Regions from separate parts of the Homo sapiens genome. Here region 1 is linked to region 2. Evidence: fine-mapped expression QTL. A gene starts in region 2. The other region holds a variant in brackets. All regions are shown on one strand. Distances are from middle to middle. Region 1 overlaps SEC16A (SEC16 homolog A, endoplasmic reticulum export factor). Region 2 holds the start of CARD9 (caspase recruitment domain family member 9).

Evidence for each region. PIP is the estimated chance that this variant, and not a neighbour inherited with it, causes the effect. A credible set is the group of variants that fine-mapping cannot tell apart.
Region 1: its variant is the best candidate, but not a certain one, in a credible set for the expression of CARD9 in subcutaneous fat (TwinsUK, PIP 0.83).

What each region holds. Positions count from the first base shown.
Region 1 is chr9:136,470,872-136,479,383 of GRCh38, reverse strand. SEC16A (SEC16 homolog A, endoplasmic reticulum export factor) reads left to right here. Exons shown (of 32, transcript NM_014866.2): 2 at 554-675; 3 at 1,700-5,335; 4 at 7,273-7,409. The coding sequence starts at 1,769. Among named protein-coding and RNA genes, the nearest start is that of SEC16A, 7.9 kb to the left of the region's middle. The variant C/T (reference allele first, on the strand shown) is at 4,624.
Region 2 is chr9:136,368,900-136,376,899 of GRCh38, reverse strand. CARD9 (caspase recruitment domain family member 9) reads left to right here and starts at 3,231. Exons shown (of 13, transcript NM_052813.5): 1 at 3,231-3,368; 2 at 4,806-5,005; 3 at 5,439-5,576; 4 at 5,755-6,059; 5 at 6,199-6,378; 6 at 6,463-6,606; 7 at 7,025-7,150. The coding sequence starts at 4,822. SNAPC4 (small nuclear RNA activating complex polypeptide 4) reads left to right here. Exons shown (of 24, transcript NM_003086.4): 23 at 419-551; 24 at 1,100-1,329. The coding sequence ends at 544. It overlaps LOC124902309 (a long non-coding RNA gene), which reads right to left. Exons shown (of 2, transcript XR_007061863.1): 2 at 7,603-8,000. RefSeq lists enhancers at 2,336-3,049, 3,069-3,363.

The sequences.
Region 1 (8,512 bases), 100 kb before region 2:
AAGACTCCGTCTCAAAAAAAAAAATGTGTGGATTAAACTACAGAGTCCTCCCCTTTGGTTTAATTTTTCCTTTGATTGGCTAAACTTATCTGTTTGTTCATGAGGGTGGTGCTGACAAGAAGAAAGACTGATAGAAAGAAAAGAACTTTCCTAAAGATATAGTCCTTGAATTTTTGCCTTAAGAGGCCAGGTTAACTATTCAAGTTTGTATCTACTATGTTTTATTTAAAAACTGATGGAGGTTTTTGCCCCTTTCTTTTCTGTAAGAGGTTTCTTGGCAATTCTGCCTGTTGTTGAAAGTGTTGGAATCCAGTCTGTGCCTTGTAAAGCTGCTTTAAGTTTCCTGGGAGTTTCCATTCCAGGCACAGTTACGGCTCCAGTTCAAAGGTAACATCTTGCTGGTGGTCCTTTCAGACCTTAAGCCAGTCACAGTACAAAAACGGAGACCTATGAAGAGGTGTGATAAAAGGCATTTAGATGAATATATTTATTTTGCAGTGCTTTTTAAAAAAATGATTGTGTCACTTTTTATTTATTTATTTTTTTAAAATAGAGACCGTCTTGCTCTGTTGCCCAGGCTGGACCGCGGTGGTATAATCATAGCTCACTGCAGCCTCGAACTCATGGACACAAGTGATCTTCCTTCCTTAACCCCCTGAGTCCCTGGGACTACAGGTGTGTGCCACCATGTCTGGCTAACTTTCTTCTTTTGTAGAGACAAGGTCTTGCTATGTTGCCCAGGCTGGTCTCGACCTCCTGGGCTCTGGCAGTCCTTCCACCTTGACCTCCCAAAGTGCTGGGATTACAGGCATGAGCCACTGCACCCAGCCTATTTTGCAGCTTTTATAACTATACTTCATAATGCTCTTTCATCAAAGAAAATGGAAGAATGAATTTTAAACTTTTGTATCCCTTTTGAAATTTAAAATTAACATGTATGGAAAGTATGATATAAAGTTTTCCTTTTTTTTTTTTTTTTTTGAGCTAGGGACTCACTGTGTCACCCAGGCTGAAGGGTAGTGGTGCTGTCATAGCTCACGACAGCCTCAACCTCCCAGGCTGACGCAATCCTCCTGCCTCAGCCTCCTGAGTAGTTGGGACTACAGGTGTGCACCACCATGCCTGGCTGATTTTTGTATTTTTTGTAGAAACGAGATCCCCCTGTTGCTCAGGCTGGCCTCGAATTCCTGGGCTCAAGTGGTCCTCCCGCCTTGGCCTCTTAAAGTGTTGGGAGTACAGGCGTAAGCCACCATATCTGGCCAGTTTTTCTTTCTTAATAGAAGAGTTGGCTCTTCCTGGATCTAGGGATGGTTTACAGGAAAACATTGAGTATCTGTGGGTCTGGTAGCATATCACAGCAGTGGTCAGGTTCCGCACTGTCCCTGTTGTTGTGGCGCGGGTCTGCGGCAGCAATGGGCCCTGTGAGTAGAGGATCCCAGGGGAGGGAGTGGCCATCTAGACATACTCCATCAGCTCGCAGCCAGGCCATCCAGGGTTCTCACTCTGTCCCCTGCCCCCCAGAACAGTTCCTCAGGGACAGGTGTTCTCTGCTGGGGTGGGGTGTAGGGGAGAGAGAGTCCTTGGGATTTAAGTGACATAAAATCATGTTCAATGTTTCTCTTTTTCCTTAGTTTTCCTGATTGCAGCTAGGACTTTGAATATATGGATTTTATGCTGATTTTCTCTTTTTCTTTTCCAGCTCCAATTAAGGAACAGCTATATCCTGCTTCCTTCTGTAAGCAGCATCGACTTGTGCAAGGGTTCAGTCATGCAGCCACCGCCCCAGACGGTCCCGTCTGGCATGGCTGGGCCACCTCCAGCCGGGAATCCTCGGAGCGTGTTCTGGGCTAGCAGCCCTTACAGGAGACGGGCTAATAATAATGCAGCAGTGGCTCCGACAACTTGCCCGTTGCAGCCGGTCACGGATCCATTTGCTTTTAGTAGACAGGCGCTCCAAAGTACACCACTGGGCAGTTCGTCCAAAAGCAGTCCACCTGTCTTGCAAGGCCCAGCCCCCGCAGGGTTTTCTCAGCACCCCGGTTTGCTTGTTCCTCACACACATGCCAGAGATAGCTCTCAGGGACCCTGTGAGCCCCTGCCTGGACCTCTGACACAGCCCAGAGCACATGCCAGTCCGTTTTCTGGTGCATTGACACCTTCAGCACCTCCTGGGCCTGAGATGAACAGGAGTGCAGAGGTCGGTCCCAGTTCAGAGCCTGAAGTTCAGACTCTGCCATATCTTCCTCACTACATTCCAGGAGTGGATCCTGAAACGTCTCATGGGGGCCACCCTCATGGGAACATGCCTGGGCTCGACCGACCCCTGAGCAGGCAAAACCCACATGACGGTGTGGTCACCCCAGCAGCATCCCCTTCCCTCCCTCAGCCTGGTCTGCAGATGCCAGGACAGTGGGGGCCAGTGCAGGGAGGCCCACAGCCCTCGGGGCAACATCGTTCACCCTGCCCTGAAGGACCTGTTCCCAGCGGGGTGCCCTGTGCCACCAGCGTTCCTCATTTCCCCACCCCGTCCATCCTACATCAGGGCCCTGGTCATGAGCAACACAGCCCTCTGGTGGCTCCCCCAGCAGCCTTGCCCAGTGACGGAAGAGACGAGGTGAGCCACTTGCAAAGTGGAAGCCACCTGGCCAATAACTCTGATCCTGAAAGTACATTCAGGCAAAATCCCAGAATTGTGAATCACTGGGCAAGCCCAGAGCTCAGGCAGAATCCAGGAGTGAAGAATGAGCACCGGCCCGCCTCTGCTCTTGTGAACCCCCTCGCCCGGGGAGATAGCCCAGAAAACCGTACGCACCACCCACTGGGGGCTGGGGCCGGGTCTGGCTGTGCCCCGCTAGAAGCAGACTCAGGAGCTTCAGGAGCTCTGGCGATGTTTTTCCAAGGGGGAGAGACAGAAAATGAGGAGAATCTCTCATCTGAAAAAGCAGGCTTATCTGGTCAAGCGGACTTTGACGATTTCTGCTCCAGCCCTGGGCTAGGCCGTCCGCCCGCACCTACACACGTGGGGGCAGGCAGCCTCTGCCAGGCCCTTCTCCCAGGCCCCAGCAATGAGGCTGCTGGTGATGTGTGGGGTGACACAGCGAGCACAGGGGTGCCGGATGCCAGCGGCTCGCAGTATGAGAATGTTGAGAACTTAGAATTTGTTCAGAATCAAGAAGTTCTGCCAAGTGAGCCCCTCAATTTGGACCCTTCCTCCCCGAGTGACCAGTTCAGATATGGGCCCCTTCCTGGGCCAGCTGTGCCCAGGCATGGTGCTGTGTGCCACACCGGAGCCCCTGATGCCACACTGCATACAGTGCACCCTGACAGCGTGTCATCCAGCTATAGCAGCAGAAGCCACGGAAGGCTCTCAGGCTCAGCCAGGCCCCAGGAGCTGGTTGGCACATTCATTCAGCAAGAAGTTGGAAAACCCGAGGATGAAGCTTCAGGTAGTTTTTTTAAGCAAATCGATTCTTCTCCCGTAGGAGGTGAAACAGACGAGACCACTGTGAGCCAGAATTACCGTGGCAGCGTGTCCCAGCCCTCAACCCCGAGCCCCCCGAAACCTACAGGAATATTTCAGACAAGTGCAAATAGTTCTTTCGAACCGGTAAAATCTCACTTAGTTGGGGTAAAACCATTTGAGGCAGATCGCGCCAACGTGGTTGGTGAAGTAAGGGAGACCTGTGTCCGCCAGAAGCAGTGCAGACCAGCTGCCGCCCTGCCCGATGCTTCCCCTGGCAACCTGGAGCAGCCACCAGACAACATGGAGACCCTCTGTGCACCCCAGGTCTGTCCCCTGCCTCTTAACTCCACCACGGAAGCTGTGCACATGCTTCCGCACGCAGGGGCACCGCCCTTGGATACTGTGTATCCAGCACCCGAGAAGAGGCCTTCAGCCAGGACCCAGGGGCCCGTGAAGTGTGAGAGCCCAGCAACGACTCTGTGGGCGCAAAGTGAGCTGCCAGATTTTGGAGGCAACGTCCTTCTGGCCCCTGCAGCCCCGGCGCTTTATGTGTGTGCAAAACCTCAGCCACCTGTTGTTCAGCCTCCAGAAGAGGCGATGTCCGGGCAGCAGTCACGGAACCCAAGCTCGGCGGCCCCGGTGCAGAGCCGAGGTGGCATTGGTGCTTCTGAGAACCTTGAGAATCCTCCCAAAATGGGAGAGGAGGAGGCCCTTCAGTCCCAGGCGAGTTCTGGTTATGCAAGTTTATTATCCTCACCGCCCACTGAGTCTCTGCAGAATCCTCCAGTCTTGATTGCTCAGCCTGATCACAGCTATAATCTGGCTCAGCCCATTAACTTTTCTGTGTCCTTATCGAACTCTCATGAGAAGAATCAGTCCTGGAGAGAGGCTTTGGTGGGGGATAGACCTGCAGTCAGCAGTTGGGCTCTCGGTGGTGATTCTGGGGAGAACACTTCTTTGTCTGGGATTCCAACCAGCTCTGTCCTTAGCTTGTCTCTGCCTAGCAGTGTTGCCCAAAGTAATTTTCCACAAGGTTCTGGTGCTTCCGAAATGGTTTCTAATCAGCCTGCTAATTTGCTGGTTCAACCACCATCCCAGCCAGTTCCAGAGAACTTGGTTCCAGAAAGTCAAAAGGATCGTAAGGCAGGAAGTGCTCTTCC[C/T]GGATTTGCTAATAGCCCTGCTGGAAGCACAAGTGTGGTGTTAGTTCCACCTGCACACGGCACCCTGGTGCCTGATGGTAATAAGGCAAACCATTCCAGTCATCAGGAAGACACTTACGGAGCCCTAGACTTTACCTTAAGCAGGACTTTGGAAAATCCTGTAAACGTGTACAACCCGTCCCATTCTGACAGCCTCGCTTCTCAGCAAAGTGTTGCCAGTCATCCCAGACAATCTGGGCCTGGGGCGCCTAACCTTGACCGTTTTTATCAGCAGGTCACGAAAGATGCCCAGGGCCAGCCTGGCCTCGAAAGAGCCCAGCAGGAGCTGGTGCCACCCCAGCAACAGGCTTCTCCCCCACAACTACCCAAAGCCATGTTTTCGGAGCTGTCAAATCCAGAAAGTCTGCCCGCACAGGGACAGGCCCAGAACTCAGCACAGTCACCAGCAAGTCTGGTTCTGGTCGACGCGGGTCAGCAGCTGCCCCCTCGGCCTCCTCAGTCCTCTAGCGTGTCTCTGGTGTCCAGTGGCTCCGGCCAGGCAGCTGTGCCGTCAGAGCAGCCGTGGCCACAGCCAGTGCCTGCACTTGCCCCCGGCCCACCGCCTCAGGACCTGGCCGCCTACTACTACTACCGGCCTTTGTACGATGCCTACCAGCCTCAGTACTCTTTGCCGTACCCACCGGAGCCTGGCGCAGCCTCCCTCTATTACCAGGTAAGAGTCGAGTCGTATGTGTAACCCACTTTTCTGTCTGTGCTTTGACCAGTTGAGTCTCACTCACAGTGTATTCCTTAGTAGTGTTTGTTCGCTTGGTTCCGGGGTCACCCACAGTCCCGCAGGCGTGAGAACAGTATTCCAGTAACGCTTCCTGAGGACAGGGCTCCCGGCTCCAGAACCTACTCTCCCAAGCACAGGCCACCCTTAGTTCACACCACGCGTTAGCATCTTGAATTGCTTATAATACTTGCTTAGGATTTGAACCAGCCTCCCCAGCTTATGTGACAAAAAGAGCCCTCCATTTGCTGTCACCCCTGCTCCTGCTGGCTGTCTGCAGAAAAGTTCTGTCTTGCATGCCTTGGGAAGCTGGGCTAGCCTCTGGAAGCTTACGTCAGAAGCATTGGGTATAACCATAGTCCTTTAAATGCCCCTGGAGAATAAAAACATGGAGAGAAAATAGTTTTGGAGCATGAGCCACACGCATCAGCTAAGCGAGGCGGAGTCCCGCAAGCTGCTGTCAGCACGTGGTGGTGCGGGCAGCGGCTCGGGGACCGGCTGTGCTCGTGCAGAAGATTCTTCTGTGCCTCTTTTTCACAGGGACACCAGCTCATGAGTGACATTTGAGTTAGGTTCCGCATAATCCTGCAGTCGTTCGAAAAGTGTCTGTGTACACATTTGATCATTATCTGCTTTTCCTACCCTCTAACCCAGTTCAACATACACCGATTGGGTTCACCGATTCAGTGTCACCCCAGGTAGAAGGATTGTGTGATAGGGAATTGGAAAACCATGGTCTTGCGGTATGTAAGGCCAGTTGGAACCAGACTTGGGGCCACACAGGAAGGCCTTGCAGTCAGAAGGGGGCCCGCCCCGAGGAGCAAGGCTGCCGTGGCTTGCTGGGTACTGCCCCGGGGAATGGGGCTGGGCCTCCCCCATGGGCCTCGAGCATCATGGTTTGTGTGCGTGTGACCAGGTGCACACCTGACCCCTCAGACCTGTGTAGGTTCCAGAAGGAGCCCAGGCACTTTTTATTTCCATACAAGGACATTCAGCTCTGCTGGGAGCCCTGGGGTGGGGCTGGTGCAGAGCGACGGGAAGCCGTGGCCTCACTTCGGGTCCTTTGTCCGGTCCTCCTGCTGCGAGCCACCTCCCTCCGCAGGAGTGCACTCCTCCCGCCGTGCCTCTTGCTGTGGTGTCCGGGTGGCCAAGGATGAGTCTGTTTTGCTGTGATTTCACATTTCCTGCCAGGCAGCGGCAGCGTCGAGGCCTTGAGGCTTTGAGGCGCTTAAGCGTGAATTCTGGCGTGTGTCCGGGGCACTGCATGTCTTCAGATCCTCATGTGTCCACATGGGCCCCGTTGGGAACAATTCTGTGGCCACGAATTGGTTGGTGATGGGGCTGAAGCCTCCCGAGAATAAAGCACGGTCCGCTTTTAGAGGCTGCTCCTGGCTGGGGCTCTGTTCACTGGGACCCTGGTTCTCTGACTTAACTGAGGTGGCATCTGAAGCGGGACGCAGGGGTTGTTCAAATCATGGCATCTCCACACTGGACTTATCAGGAAGCAGAAACCTAACAGCCCCTTCCAGAAGTCGCCACAGCCCCCTGGGGTTGTCTGCTGACATGCTGGTGCCCTGGGTCCATCCAGAGGTCTCCTGAACAGGGCCAGGGCTGTGGGTCTTAGGACACCCTGCTGCCTGTGGGTGTGGCTGTGCTTTGGAGGTCTGTGTGGTTGTGTATGAGGGAAGGGCCACGCTCAGTCCTGCTGGAGAGCAGCCATCTGCGATGTTTCTAGCTCAGGCTGGTTGTTGGACGAGCTTGCTCTTGGTAGGTATCTAATGCTGCCCGCCCTCTGCAATGTTTCCAGCTCAGGCTGGCTGTTGGACGAGCTTGCTCTTGATTGGTGTCTAATCCTGCCCAAATGCTTCCTCCCACAGGATGTCTACAGCCTCTATGAGCCTCGATACAGGCCCTATGATGGTGCTGCGTCTGCTTACGCCCAGAACTACCGCTATCCCGAGCCCGAGCGGCCCAGCTCCCGAGCCAGCCACTCCTCGGAACGGCCACCTCCCAGGTGCGGCCGCGCCCACCCTGGCTGCCTCTCTGTCCTACTCAGACCCATGTCTGTGTTGCTTGCTATGGGGATAACTTAGTGACTCAAAAAGTTCTGTATTTCTGAAGAATTGTACAAACTTATCTAACATATGTTGACATTTTCTTGGTATGGACAAATTGTAGGGTGTGTTTTTAAATGAAATTAAACACTGCCCCAGGTGGTCATTAGCTGTGCTGGTCAGTTAGCATTTGGCGCCACCCCTACTGGGGCCAGACCCTGCTCAGGGCTGCAGAGAAGCAGCCTCTGACTTGTCTGTGAGCCCCTCTTGACGGGGCACGTCTGTTGGTCCGGCCATTTGCTAATGGGGTGTTCAGGCTCCCCAGAGACACGGCAGCTTTTCACCGGTCTCCGGAGGCCTGGGAGGACTGGTCACAGAGGTGACTTAATTCTTAGACCTGTCAGGCTGGCTACAGAAAGCAGGGCTTGAAAGCCTGTGTTTCCTCTTCTTTTTTTTTCTTTTAAGGCAGGTCTCACTCTGTTGTCCAAGCTGGAGTGCAATGGTGCCATCTTGGCTCACTGCAGCCTTGACCTCCTGAGCCCAAGCAATCTTCCCACTTCAACCTCCCGAGGAGCTGGGACTACAGACATGCCCCATCAAACCCAGCTAATTTTGTTCATTTTTTTTTTTGTAGAGACGAGGGTCTCACTATGTTGGCCAGGCTGGTCTCGAACTCCTGGCCTCAAGGGATCCTCCTGCCCTGGTCTCCCAAAGTGCTAGGATTACAGGCATTAGCCACTGCGCCCGGCCAGCCTATGTTTCTCCTTGACATTGCCGCCTCTGCTTGAAGGCCAGCCATTCCTCTGTTTGCCATTACAGAAGAGGGGTTTGGAAAGACCTGTGGCACTGTGGCTTCAGCTGAGTAGCCCTTTAAGCCAGGTCAGAGTCCTCCTGGGCCCTAGAGCAGAGGAGGCTGTTGTTGATTTTCATCTCCACTCAGGGAGGTGCGCAGAGCCCTGCGAGGGGTGGGCGTGGTCCTGGCCACCGCGCTAGGCTGCGCCTTCCAGGGCCTTAGCTGCACTTGCTCCTTGTGAGATCTGAGAGAGACTGTCTCACAGATAGA
Region 2 (8,000 bases):
GGAGTGTGGCAGAGGGCCTTCCATCTCTCCCCAGGGTTGTGTCTCGCAAGTCCCTGGGCTGAAGTGTGGGAGGAAGCAATGTCCAAGAGTTGGGGAGGACCCCGGCCAGCCAGGGGAAGAGGCCCTCTGTGCCCCATCCATGTACAGCCTCCTGCCCTGCCTGGGTGTGATGGCTGTCCCATGGGGGAGTGGGAGGCCCACCAGAGGGATGGCTTGGATGGGGTCAGAGCCCCCGAGGGAGGGAGTGCACAGTCACGTGTGGCCCCAGGAGTGCCTGGAGCAGCTCCCGCCTGAGCTGAGGGTGCCCTGTCCCAAGTGGGACACTCACCCACAGGGCCCCTCCTCACTCCCGTCCCTTCCCCGTCCATCATGGCTCGGGGGTGTCACTCTTGTCCCCACTGCCTGGATTTTCTTTCAGGGAGCCCCAGACTCTGGTAAATGCTCTGCTTCCTCCTGCCTGGATACTTCTAATGACCCTGACGACCTGGACGTGCTCAGAACCCGGCATGCCAGGCACACCCGGAAGCGGAGGCGGCTGGTGTGAGCAGCAGGTGAGTCCTGAGTGGGGAGGCCACTGCCCTACAACCCAGGGGACAGAGTGGTGTCCAGATGGCAGGGGGCCTTGGCCTCTGCTCGGCTCTTTGGCGCTCACAGCAGGTGTGCTGGGTTAGGTGGGCAGGTCCAGGGTCATGGAGGCCCTCCAGGGGGAGAAGCATTTAACCCACATCCTTCCTGCTGGCCACCCATGCCTCGGGCCTTGGCACCACTGTGCCCCTGACCATAGGCTCATTCCCTGCCTTTGGGGTCTGGGCTCCTCCCTGGCCGCTGTGCTCTGGTGGTGCCCTGTTCCCGTGCATTGCTGCGTCGTCTCCCAGCTTGTAAAACGATCACCATCCCCAACCGCAGCCACCAGGCTGGCTCTTCACTGCTGGAGCCCTGGTGCCCTGGCCTGGCCCTTGGCGCATGTGGGTCAGGTTTACCAAGCAGACTGGGCGTGGCCGGCGCTGGGGTGGTCTTGGTTCCTGTTTGTCTGTCCCAGCCCTGCTTGGGGTCTGGCTGGGGTCAAGGGCACCCCCCACCTGGTGTTCCTGTGTTCCAGGACAAGCACTTTCTCAGAAGCCCGTGGCCCTGCTGACGAGAGACAGCCCACCCCCAGCCTGCAAGAGAGGCAGCCAGAGGCCAGGTATCTGCTGGCCGCTGACTGACCAGGTCCGCAGTGAACAGAGGCGGGCCTGCCGACTGACTGTGTGGCATGGAGCATGGCTGTTCCCCAAGTGCACACCTGAACACTTGGAGGAATAAAGTTCTGTTTTTAATTGTGGAGCTGGACACAGGCTGTTGTGGTTTTGTTGTCCTGAGGTACCGGGCAGTGTACAGGGACCCCCCACCTGGCTGGGGTCAGGCTGCTGCCTAGTGGCTGAGCCACCCTAGTGCAGGCAGTTCGGGAACAAGCAGGGTGCTGGGGGCCCAGAGCTGGGGTCCTGGAAGGCCTCCCGTACCCCGGCTGCCCTCCTGTCAGAGAAGCAGGCTTTCTTTCGCCCATTTCCTGGAAAGCATCTGTGGCTTTGTCCTTCAGGCTAGCCGGCACCCTCCCCAGATGGCTGCCAGCCCTCGCGCTGCCCTGGCTGACCCAGGGGGTTCCCTGGAACAGATGACCTGGCTACCCCGACACGGCGGCAGCCCCCACCCTCCACTGTTCCTTTTGCATGGGCCTTTATTGGCATAAGACTAGCCCCCATCTTCTCCGTCTGTCCCCTAGCTCCCTTTCCTTTGTCTCTGTGGCAGCAGCGCCCCCAGGCCCTTGGCTATCTGGGCTTCGATCCTTCACTGGAGCCACTGTGGGGCCTCAGCCCTGGGCACCTGGCAGACGGGACGGTCCCATGGCCGACCTCACTCCTGAGTATGTGTTGCTGTGCCTGGTTCTCTAGTCTGGTGCCTAGTCTGGGGGCCACTCTGATCTGTGGGTTATTTAGCGGTATATTATTTAATTTCCAAATATTTAGAGATTTTGCCGATATCTGTTACCGATTTTTAGCTTCCGATATGGTTAGAGAACATGGTATGTGTGTTCACTCCTAAGGACACACACCACAGGGAAGTCACTAAGGTCCGCGTTTTAAACGCTGGGGAAACACTGGGTCATGAGGGCCTGGTGCCAGCTCCGGTTCGCTCCCTGGCAGGGCCCAGGATGGCCCCGGCCTGCACACTCGCTCATGTTGATGGTGAGGGGTCCAGCAGGGGCACGGCCCCCTGGAATGTGGCATTCCCGAGAGCCCAGGAGGACCCCTAACTGTCCGCTCCTTAATGTGTGATGTCAGACGTTGTCCGCACAGAGGCCTGAGGGCTGGAGGCTGAGAACGGTTAGGCAAGCTCCACACCAGCTTCCTTGCCTTCCAGCCTGGCGGCCCCTTCTCGAACCTGTTGGGTGGCAACTCAGTTCAACCAGCTTTACCGGGTGAGGCGGGGCCTGGGGGTTCCCAAGCCTGCAGGGATGAGGCTCTGGCAGCCCACACGCTGAAGTGCACAGTTCAGGGCAGACTCTGCTGTCCGTTGTCCCTGGATGGGGGCCGAGCTGTGCCCTGCTGTCACCGGCTCTTCTGAAGCTGGTTTGGGGGACCCCGAGAGTGGCCTCAGTCCTCACATGCATCCTGGTGGAGAGCAGGGATGCCTCATGATGGGGATAACGAGGATAACGACACTTCTGGAAGGGACGTTTCTCCCCCGTGTGCAGCTGGGTGGTGGCCGATGCCATGGCCCCTGGCAGGCTGCTGTGGCCTCCTGGGCTCCATAAGGTGGGCTGCAGCCCTTCTGTGACCAAGGCGTGTGCTGGCCATGCCGTGTGGCTGTGTGCCCCCCTGCACATGCCCTGCCCCGCTGTCCTGAGATGCTGGCGAGGGCGAGGGTGTTCGCACAGAGCAAAGCATGCCTTACTGAAGAAGTCTCCAGAAGCCTGTGACCAGGTCAAAGTGGCTGGGTGCGGGCTGGCCTTGTCCAGCCCCCTGGGGGTCTCTGCTGTCTCTTCTACTTGCCAGGTGCCAGGGCTGGGCCTCTGGGGCATCCCCAGGACCCCCAGCCCCCGGCCAGGCTGGGAGGGCTGGGAGCAGCTTTCCTCTGGAGGGCAGCGGACTTCCACTTCCGTCTGCCTCTTGGGGCCTCCTGGGCTGGGCGAATCAGAAAGCAGGTCACCAGGGACTGTCCCCCTGTGGGAGGACTGGCGGGACTGTGGAGTTAAGCAGAACCCATCAGGAAGTGCACAGGCGTCCGGCGTGCTCCTCCCTCCCTGCAGCCCCGGGCAGCATCTCCCAGAGGCTCCGCGGCCCAGGCTCCTGGTGTGTCTGCAGTGCAGGTGGCTCCTGGAAGACCCTCAGGTGGGTGGGTCTGGTGCTTTCTGAAAGGTGGCCAGGAAGGTTGGCGTTGGCCTAGTTCAGGATCCTGGCACTGATCCCCCAGAGCAGCCTGAGGCTTCCCACAGGCAGCCAGGCAGCCTCCGCCATGCGGCCCCGTCCCTTTCACGGCCCCTGGGCGGAGATGTGTTCATTTCAGTGGAATTACGGTGGCAGATGGGACCCTGCATTTCAAGCTGGGGAAGCAGGAAAGGGGCCCAGTGTTCCCAGGACTGTCTACCGTGTGGCCAGTGTTTTTATTCAGTCCCTTGTCTGTCAAAACTGTCCTGAATGGGGTGACAAAGTGCAGCGGGAAGTTGAGAAATGCCTCAAAAGACCAAGCCTGGGGCAACTATGTCTCCAGGAGCAGTGACCCAGCTCCTCTGGGCTGGAAACCAGCGTTTCCCAGCGGGGCTGGAGGCTGTCTGAGGACCACGTGGCTGCTCCCAGCCTTGCCGCAGTCCCAGTCTCAGAGGGAGTGGCTTTCAGCGGCTGAGGCCCCCACCATGCTGGCAGAAAGGGACAGCAGTGGCTGGTCCCAACATGGGTAGTTCTGTTGCAGCCACTGGGATGGGGGCCGGGCCTCATCTGGGGCAGGAGAAGAGTCCAGGGATTCACTGGTGCCCGGCACCTCAACCTGGAGAAAACACCGCAGCAGCACTCCTGGCCAGCCAAGGGCAACACTGACAGCCCCTCCCAGGGTTGCGGGGCCGGCAGGGGGTGACAGAGACACGCTCCTGTGGGCAGCTCTTCCCGGCCAGTGCAGCGACCCCGCAGCTGCAGCAGGGCTGGGTGGCCACTCTTGCATCATCAGCAGCCGGCCGTGGAGGAGGGAGGGCACAGCCAGGGATGTGAGCAGGCGTCGGTCAGGGGAATGAGGAAGTCCCACAAGAACCGGCTCCCCCAGCTGCTGTGCTGGTGGGAGGGCCACTGGCCAACCTGCTCTCACCCAGCTTGGGCTGGCCATAGTGCCAGGCAGTTGCCCTCAGCTCCTCTGCCCATTCCAGCCATGGAGGTGGCTAACCTTGCAGGCTCCAGGGCGTGATGGGAGTGTCCAGGAGGCAGAGGCCAGAGGGGGTCATGCTGTAGGGGGAGTTCCTCTCTCAGACCCCATCTGTGCCTCCCCCGCTGCGTATCTGGGTGACATGGATGCCAACGGGCAGGAGCAAGGGCTGGGAAAGGCTGCGGAGGGGCCCTCGGCTGGTCTGGTGGGGAGCGGGGTCACTGTGTCTCTGCTGCCTCCCTGGGGGATCCAGCGTGGGGATGGGACATGGAGCTGGGCACCTCTCCTGGATGCCCCTGGGCTGATCCCCCTCGATGCCCTGACGAGAGCCCTGGCCCAGCGTCTGAGAAGGAGTGGGAGCTGGGCCCGGGTGGGGGCAGGAGCCGGCATCGCTCTCAGCACTGCCCCACACTCCCCAGCCTGCCTGCTGAGGCCATGTCGGACTACGAGAACGATGACGAGTGCTGGAGCGTCCTGGAGGGCTTCCGGGTGACGCTCACCTCGGTCATCGACCCCTCACGCATCACACCTTACCTGCGGCAGTGCAAGGTCCTGAACCCCGATGATGAGGAGCAGGTGCTCAGCGACCCCAACCTGGTCATCCGCAAACGGAAAGTGGGTCAGTGTTGCCCCGCGGGCCCCAGGCCCCAAACCCAACCACAGAGTCAGCTCGGAGGTGGCTGCACGCTCTGCCACCCTGACCCTCAACCCCAGGAGAGCCCCGCCTGGCTTTGCCCCTGGCCTCTGACTGAGGCCCAACCTCAACCCTGGCACGTGGCCCGTCCCCCAGCCTCTCCTGCCGGCTTGGTGCTGCCAAGAGGGGCAGCGGGGCTCCCACCGCAGCGGGGGCTCCTGAGACAGCCAAGGGGCGGGTGGGCAGCACTTGGTCCCCAGCCTAGTACCAAGACCCGCAGGGTACCTCATCCAAGACCCAGACCACGGCACACCTCATCTGCATGCCAGCCTCCACCTGTCCCTGCCCCCAGGCCCACCCACCCCAGCCCTCTGCCTCGCCTGTGCCCCGCCCCCAGTTAGGCCTCTCTGGCCCGCAGGTGTGCTCCTGGACATCCTGCAGCGGACCGGCCACAAGGGCTACGTGGCCTTCCTCGAGAGCCTGGAGCTCTACTACCCGCAGCTGTACAAGAAGGTCACAGGCAAGGAGCCGGCCCGCGTCTTCTCCATGATCATCGGTGAGTGACGGGGGAGGCGGGGCCGACAGGGGAGGCGCTGGCGGGGAGCGGGCAGTGGTGTTGGGTCCTCTGCCTGGCCCCCATCCCTAGGAGCCCTGAGCTCCTGCCACAGCGCAGGGCGTGATGGAGCTGGGCCACCGGGGAACACGGCACCATCTGACACTGGCCTGGCCCACAGACGCGTCCGGGGAGTCAGGCCTGACTCAGCTGCTGATGACTGAGGTCATGAAGCTGCAGAAGAAGGTGCAGGACCTGACCGCGCTGCTGAGCTCCAAAGATGACTTCATCAAGGAGCTGCGGGTGAAGGACAGCCTGCTGCGCAAGCACCAGGAGCGTGTGCAGAGGCTCAAGGAGGAGTGCGAGGCCGGCAGCCGCGAGCTCAAGCGCTGCAAGGAGGAGAACTACGACCTGGCCATGCGCCTGGCGCACCAGAGTGAGGAGAAGGGCGCCGCGCTCATGCGGAACCGTGACCTGCAGCTGGAGGTGCGCCCGCTGCCCCCGGGAAACCAGGCCACCCTCGCCTGGCCTGGCGGGGTCTGCAGGCCGGGGCGGTCGGGGGTGGCCCCACGGGTCTGCGGTCACCGCCTGGAGGGGACAGCCAGGCTCACTGGACCTTCTGCAGATTGACCAGCTCAAGCACAGCCTCATGAAGGCCGAGGACGACTGCAAGGTGGAGCGCAAGCACACGCTGAAGCTCAGGCACGCCATGGAGCAGCGGCCCAGCCAGGAGCTGCTGTGGGAGCTGCAGCAGGAGAAGGCCCTGCTCCAGGCCCGGGTGCAGGAGCTGGAGGCCTCCGTCCAGGTGGGGCCGTAGGCAGGGCAGGTGCAGCCCAGGCAGGGCAGTGGGGGCCTTCCCAGCCAGGCCATTGCCTTTTGCCCCCTTCAGGAGGGGAAGCTGGACAGGAGCAGCCCCTACATCCAGGTACTGGAGGAGGACTGGCGGCAGGCGCTGCGGGACCACCAGGAGCAGGCCAACACCATCTTCTCCCTGCGCAAGGACCTCCGCCAGGGCGAGGCCCGACGCCTCCGGGTAGGAGGGCAGGCGGGGAGACATGGCCCCTGGGGTCCAAGCCAGGCTGGACGGGCTGAGCTCCGCCCACTCCGTGCCTGGAAGGTGGGGTGTGGAGACCCCAGTGCAGCGCCTCCACTCACCCACTCCTGGAGGCACAGTGGACGGTGCCCTCTCCTTGCCCGCCTGCCCCCCATGGCAAAGGCCAACCTCTGGGCTCATGGTGCCTGAGGCACAGCAGTGTCTGAGGCCTGCCGGAGGGCCCTGTCCTGCCGCGGTCTGGAAGTGCAGGGCTGGTAGGGGCCTGGGGACTCCTATGGCCTCCCCCGACATCCCAACTGGCCTGACCACATGCTTCTGAGCCCCTGCCCGGAGTATACCCCAAGGGCCAGAATGGGGGGCCTCAGGCCTGTGGGGGCTGAGCTGCCGCCCCCTGCAGTGCATGGAGGAGAAGGAGATGTTCGAGCTGCAGTGCCTGGCACTACGTAAGGACTCCAAGATGTACAAGGACCGCATCGAGGCCATCCTGCTGCAGATGGAGGAGGTCGCCATTGAGCGGGACCAGGTGGGCACTCGCAGGGGCAGGACAAAGCACCCCACTCGCGGGTGGGTGCACCAGGGCCACGGCCCTTGAGGGCAGTTGTCAGAGGATTTTTAATCTTTGTTATTTGTTTTTGAGATGGGGTCTTGCTATGTCACCCAGGGTGGCCTCAAACTACTGGCCTCAAGCAATCCTCCGGCCTCAGCCTCCCAAAGTGCTGGGATTGCAAGCTGAGCTGCCACACCTGGTCTGTTTTTTAAATGACAGAAGCAATACTTAACACTAAAAAAAAGTAAACGATGATGAAGTCAATACTTCCCCACCCCAGCCTACTGTCAGGGAAAACCGTGTTCAACCTTCCCGCTCCACCTTACAGACTTACCTGTCATCTATCCATGTATCCATCTGTCTATCATCTATCACCTATCTATCTATTTATATATTTGGTTTTGTTTTACAAAAATGGAAACATTCTGTCTTGTTTTACCAGTAGCTTTTTTTAATCTTAAAAAAAGCTTGGCTGGACGTGGTGTCTCTCGCCTGTCATCCCAGCACTTTGGGAGGCTGAGGCGGGCGGATCACTTGAGCCCAGGAGTTCCAGAGCAGCCTGGGCAACACGGTGAGATCCCTGCTCTACAAAAAAATGCAAAAATTGGCCTGGCGCGGTGGCTCACGCCTATAATCCCAGCACTCTAGGAGGGCGAGGCAGGCGGCTCACTTGAGGTCAGGAGTTCGAGACCAGCCTGGCCAGTATGGGGAAACCCCGTCTCTACTAAAAACACAAAAATTAGCCTGGTGTGGTTCCGGGCGCCTGTAATCCCAGCTACTCAGGAGGCTGAGGCAGGAGAATTGCTTGAACCCAGGAGGCAGAGGT